Homo sapiens: one gene and its partner. The protein of the gene in region 2 interacts with the protein of the main gene of each other region in a pairwise test. Each region holds a gene or a part of one and is shown on either strand. Other genes may lie near its edges.

Evidence for each region.
Region 1: the proteins of GLYAT (region 2) and NBPF19 interact in a two-hybrid assay, tested with the Homo sapiens proteins (one large-scale study listed by BioGRID).

What each region holds. Positions count from the first base shown.
Region 1 is NC_000001.11:149,548,045-149,551,544, reverse strand, and holds part of NBPF19 (NBPF family member NBPF19), read right to left. Parts: intron 3,396-3,500; coding exon 3,223-3,395; intron 2,509-3,222; coding exon 2,400-2,508; intron 1,771-2,399; coding exon 1,598-1,770; intron 879-1,597; coding exon 827-878; intron 219-826; coding exon 46-218; intron 1-45.
Region 2 is NC_000011.10:58,711,601-58,714,943, forward strand, and holds part of GLYAT (glycine N-acyltransferase), read right to left. Parts: intron 1,287-3,343; coding exon 1,160-1,286; intron 1-1,159. UniProt on the Homo sapiens protein: Mitochondrial acyltransferase which transfers an acyl group to the N-terminus of glycine and glutamine, although much less efficiently.

The DNA of each region.
Region 1 (3,500 bases), on a different chromosome or scaffold from region 2:
GGAAGACCAGGTGGAGGCTTATCACCTTCATAGTAAGGTACTCACTGTCCACGTCAAGAGCCAAGCCAAGGTACTGTTCCTCCAATGAGTAAACAGCACTGCTGTAGGGCTGGCCTAAGTCAGGCAGTTCAAGATAACCTGAAGGAGTCGAATAACATCTATCCAGTGGGTCCTGCAAGACTTCAGGCTCTTTCTCAGCCAGCAGCTCCCTGCTGAGCCTGGAAAAGTAGGAAAAAGTAAAGAATAAGCCAGGGGGAATCAGAAACCACACAGCCCCAGCTAGATTTCATGGCTAACATAAGGAACTGTTTAAAAAGAAAAAGGACAGATCCATTAATGAGGTAATGAATTATTGCCTTTATGTTGGGATAGACCAGGGCCAGGTAGAAAAGAATGAAAGAGAAAGACAGGGAGAGGGAGAGAGAGAGAGAGAGAGAGAGAGAGGAGAAAGTGAGCTCAGCGAGTTGGCCGGGTGACACACTGATGAAGGGGTCAAAGGACACTCTGAGTTAGTGCCCTCGGGACACACAGCGAACAGTGATCATGAAAAGAGTGGGCTCAATAATTTTCCATAAACTTGCTCAAGATTCCATGCAGTTGCCATACAGCCTTTGAGGTATGGTCAACCTATAGTAAGTTAGTAAATGTTAAGGGGAGGAAGAAATGGAAACCTAAACATCTACTGCAATGAAAACCAACAGCCATGTCAGTAGGAGTAATTCAACCTTCGTTGAAAACATGAAATTGAACACACTCTTGTTTTCCCTGGACCTGGCATCTCCAGGTGTCAACACAGAATTAAGCATCCATAATTGCTCAAAGTTACCTGGGGCATGATGGGTCTTGGTCTTCTTCCACTTCTTGGTACTTTTCAATTTCTGCAATAAGTTCAGACATGGACAGACATATGAAGCTGGTTCTCCTACACACATAACAATCCACTGTCTAATCCTCACACAGGGACTTCAGGCTCCTCAGCATGAGAATAGGACACTGTGAGAGATATTCTTCAGGAGGCCTGAAGGCTGATCACCATAGAGATTCCTTGGTTTTTGTCCCAGAAACTGTGGGTAAAATTCCCTATTCTGGTAGATCGTTATCCCAATATCATTTGTCCCAAGTTTGTGCAAATGGTTATGCCATATTTTTCCAATCGATTTAAAGCAAATACCCCCAAATGGTTGCTAGGAGAAAAACTGCACTATTCAGCCCTGTCTCATCAAATACTCAGATTGTTCATGGTAGCGAGGATTTTAGACGCTGAAATTAGAGTGAAGGATGAAATCTACAAGATCTACAAAATTGAGACAAAATCAGAGTTGTGTGAATTTGTCACATCTGCCCAGGTCCAGTGTCATGAGAGTAGGATTAGGGCTCCACAGGCATGGCCTGAGACTAGGGAGAGAGCCTTGCTCACTGACCCATCCCTTGTCTGGGCTGCCAAGTGGAACTAGAGTTTCATTCAACCTACATGTGCCTATAGGTCCTCCCTGTGGCAATGACATCTCTCAGCTCAGTAAGGGCCACTTGCAGTAGGAATATGACCCTAACCAGAAGACTCAGTGGATCCTTATCACCTTCATAGAAAGGTACTCACCATCCATGTCAACAGCCAAGCCAACACACTGTTGCTCCAATATGTAAAAGGCACTTCTGTAGGGCTGGCATGAGTCAGTCAGTTCAAGACAACCTGAAGGAGTTGAATAACATCTATCCAGTGAGTCCTGCAAGACTTCAGGCCCTTTCTCATCCAGCAGCTCCCTGCTGAGCCTGGAAAAGTGGGAAAAAGTAAAGAATAAGCCAGGGGGAATCAGAAACCACACAGCCCCAGCTAGATTTCATGGCTAACGTTAAGGAAGAGTTTGAAAAGAAAAAGGACAGATCCATTAATGAGGTAACAAATTATTGCCTTTATGTTGGGATAGAACAGGGCCAGGTAGAAAACAATGAAAGAGAAAGACAGAGAGAGAGAGAGAGACAGAGACAGAGAGAGAGACAGAGACAGAGACAGAGAGAAAGTGACCTAGTGAATTGGCCAGGTGACATACTGGTAAGGGAGTAAAAGGACACTCTGAGTTAGTGCCCTCATGACACACAGCAAACTGTGATCATGAAAAGAGTGAGCTCAATAGTTTTCCATAAAATATGCTCAAAATTCGATGCAGTGGCCATGAGAGTACAGCTTTTGAAGTATGGTCAACCTATGGTACGCTAGTAAATGATAAGGGGAGGAAGAAATGGAAACCTAAACATCTACTGCAATGAAAACCAACAGCAATGACAGTAGGAGTAATTCAGCCTTCGTTGAAAACATGACATCAAACACACTCTGGTTTCCCTGAATCTGTTGCCTCCAGGTGTTAACACAGAATTAAGCATCCACAATTGCTGAAAGTCACCTGGGGCATGGTGGGTTTTGATCTTCTTCCCCTTCTTTTCTTCCCCTTCTTCTTTCCTTCTTTGATCTTCTTCCCCTTCTTTTCTTCCCCTTCCCCTTCTTTTCAATTTCTGCAATAAATTCAGACATGGACAGACACATTAAGCTGATTCCCCTACACACATAACAATCCACTGTCTAATCCTCACACAGGGACCTCAGGCTCCTCAGCATAAGAATAGGACACTGTGAGAGATATATTTCAGGAGGCCTGAAGGCTGGTCATGATAGAAATTCCTCGGTTTTTCTCCCAGAAACTGTGGGTAAAATGTCCCTATTCTAGTAGATCGTTATCCCAATATCATTTGTCCCAAGTTTGTGCAAACAGTTATGCCATATTTTTCCAATCAATTTAAAGCAAATACCCTCAAATGATTTCTGGGAGAAAAACTGCAATATTTAGCCCTGTCTCATCAAATACTCAGATTGTTCATGGTTGTGAGGACTTTAGACACTGAAATTAGAGTGAAAAAGGAAATCTACAAACCCTTGAGTCAAAATCATAGTTCTCTGAATTTGTCACATCTGCCCAGGTCCAATGTCATGAGAGTAGAATCAGAGTGCCACAGGTATGGCCTGAGACTAGGAAGAGAGCCATGCTCACTGACCCATCCCATGTCTGGGCTTCCAGGTAGAACTAGAGTTTCATTCAACCTACATGTGCCTATAGGTCCTCACTGCGGCAATGACATCTCTCAGCTCAGTAATGGCCACTTGGAGCAGGAATATGATCTTTATATGGAAGACTCAGTGGATGCTTATCACCTTCATAGAAAGGTACTCACCTCCCACGTCAAGAGAAAAGCCAACATGTTTTTCCTCCAATGCATAAAAGGAACTTCCATAGGGCTGGCAGGAGTCAGGCTGTTCAAGACAACTGGAAGGAGTTGAATAACATCTATCCAGTGAGTCCTGCAAGACTTCAGGCTCTACTACCTCCAGCAGCTCCCTGCTGAGCCTGGAAAAGGAGGAAAAAGTAAAGAATAAGCCAGGGGAAATCACACACAACAGAGCCCCAACTAGGTTTCATGGGTAGCATAAGGAAGTGGTTAAGAAAGTAAAA
Region 2 (3,343 bases):
TCTGGGCTGCGTAATTGTGTAGCAATTTTGATAATCCTAGTAGGTAAATTTAAAAAACGGTAGGTAACATCTACTAAGCTACATTCCTAGTGTAATAATATGAGGCAATGACCCATGATTTGCACATATCTCCTGGAATCCATTCCCCAGATAGTCCCCTCCTCTGCTGCAACTTACCTTGGCCACATTGACCATCTTTCATCAATGGAAAGAGCAAATTTAATGCAAGGAGAGGCTTAAAAGTGCCTGCCCCATTGGGGCTTTCCCTTTGTTTTTGCTCCTGGTTAAGACCAATTATGTTAAGACCAATACCATTAAGATAGGCCTGGGCCAGCCTGCTAGCGACACATGTTGCCATCATGCTGTCACCACAGTCACCAGCTGTCATGAACTAACAGCAGAACTCTCATTCAGGCATGTGAGTGAGGCCGTGTAAGAGCAATCAGCCATGGTCCACCCATCAACTACAGCTACATGAGTAAACCCAGATAAGACCAGTGGAAGAACTGCCTTGCAAAGCTCAGCCCAAATGGTTGATTCACAGAATTATTAGGTTTGCTATGCAGCAAACATTAACTAATATGTCTAAGTATTATGCTAAGCACTTCCTAGTCACTTTCATTTAATCTTTTCAGTGCCTTGTGTTTTAGGTAACATTATTTTCCTCATTTTTATATATGAGGAACATAATCTCAGAGAGATTAAATCACTTAACTAAGATTATACAGCAAGTAATAGGCAAATGCCATCCTAGAGAATCTCCAGAGAGCATAGTTGGAACCATGATAGTTGTTCTTGGTGACCTGGGAAGTATTCTATGGCCAAATAAGCTATCATTTTTATTACAGGAATAGAAGTCCAGAGGGAAGGCTCTTCTTCAGCATCCAATCACCCTAAAAGGTCTGGATACAGCTGCAAAATATGTCATAAATCCTTGGTACCAAGGAATTATACTATAGTTCCCTTTATGAAGCCCATTCTTTGCAAATTTTAGGGTTTCCCACGCTGTCCACCACCTTTTACAGATATAGTTACCACACAGTAACAAAATTGACAGCAGGCTGGGAGTCTGGAGCTTGGAGGAAGGAGGTATAAGTCATATGAAAACTTGCTCAGGACACATAAGTGAGTCAGCACACATCCCATTCCTCTTACTTACTTTGAATCTGTAAATGCTGTTTCCAGTTGATGAGTTCTGGTGATCCAAGGAATTCCTGACAGTTTTGGGGATCTTTGGAGTAGATTTGGTAAGTATTGGTATAGTGATCAAGGTCATCTGTCATATCCTGTTATCATTAGGAAAAAGGAAATAAAACACATCCTTATATTTTATGATTACATATAATTTTATACTGTGATATTTCTAAGTAATAAAATATTGGTAGTTTTATTGGTGTATCACAATTATTTCTTTTTTATTGATACATAATATTTGTAAAAAATGTGTAATATTTTGTTATGTGCATAGAATGTTTAATGATCAAGTCATAGTTTTCATCATCCAGAATAATTATTATTTCCATGTGTTGAGAACATTTCAAGTCCTCCTTCAATCTACTTTGAAATATACAATACATTGCTGTTAACTATAGTCATCCTATGTTAAACATTAGAACTTATTTCCTTTATCTAACTGTGGGTTTGTATGCATATAATTATTTCTGAATTCTTTAAATAATGAGATAAAGATCAAATATTCAATTTATGTTGGAAAATTCCAGAACAATACTATTCATTATCCACATATCACGTTAAAATTTCAAATAAAAGACATAACCATTTAGAAAGCATTCTTCTTACCACCATCATCCTCAACAGGAAGAAGAGAAAGGCAATTGACAAGGGAAAGCTTATGTCACAAGAATAAATTTTACTACAGTTCAAAGACTTGCAGAATACACAAACTATGACCATGGCAGTATGAAACTTGATATTGATACCAAAGAAGATTAAAAACTAATTCAAAATGCCTTCTTTAAAAAATATGTTGGTTAAACCAGTTGCAGTTCCAGAGAAACAAACAATCCACTTACACGGAAAGAGCTTCTCAAATTAGTAAATGACAGATACAATTATTTACAGGAAGAAGGTGGATGAAAATATTACCACAACTATTATAGAATTAAAAAACTTTTTAAAAAGTTGGAAAATGTTGCACAAAAAACCCACTCACAAGTCAGCAATGATACCACTGACACATTTTGTTGCTTAAGACCACATTTAATAAAAGATCAAATAATTTTATTTCAGTTTAGTTTTCATACCATAAATTTATTCATTTCATATATTGTTTATTTTTTTATTTTGATTGGCAAATAAATGATTGCATATATTTATTAACAATATGTTGTGTTGAAATATGTATACATTTTGAAATGGCTAAATCAGGGTAATTAGCATACATATTGCTTCCCCTATGTTGAACCTGGAGGACATTATACTTAGTGAAATAAGCCAAACACAGGCAGATACCTCATGATCTCCTTTGTATGTAGAATGTAAAAATGGTGAACTCATAGAAGTAGAGAGTAGAATGGTAGTTATCAGCAGGTAAGGTGGGGGAAAGTAGAGGAATTGGGTAGTTGTTAGTCAAAAGATATGAAACTTCAGTTATAATAGTTATAATAGGAGGAATAAGTTCAAGAGACATATTGTACAACTCGGTGACTATAGTTAATAACAATGTATTGTATTCTTGAAAATTGCTGAGAGAGTAGATTTTAAGTGTTCTCACAACAAAGTGATTTTTAAATAACTTTATTAGCATTAAAAGTATATTTGTGTTTTCTGATGTTTTGAAATAAGCTTATGCATTTTTATCTTGAAATGTGTTAATTGTTTAGTTTCAATAATTTTAAGTGTTTCCTCAAATGTGTATAGAAGTTCTATCATTATAGTTTTGCTTTTCATAGTTGATATGGTTTGGCTGTGTCCCCACCCAAATCTCACCTTGAATTATAGTTCTCATAATCCCCACGTGTAATGAGAGGGACCAGATGGAGACAATTGAATCATTGGGGTGGTTTCCCCCACCGTGTCTTTGTGATAGTAAGTTTTCATGAGATCTGATGGTTTTATAAGGGGCTTCCCCATTTGCTTGACTGTCATTCTTTCTCCTGCCACCATGTGAAGAAGGTCGTGTTTGCTTCCCCTTCTGTCAGGACTGTAAGTTTCCCGAGGCCTTCCCAGCCATGCTGAACTATGAGTCAATTAAACGTCTTTCCTTGATAAATTACCCTGTCTCACATATGTCTTTATTAGTAGCATGAGAACGGACTAAAACAATAGTCACTCTAACTCATTGTCCTTTTTTTTACAACTTTATATCTGTGCTCTTGCTATT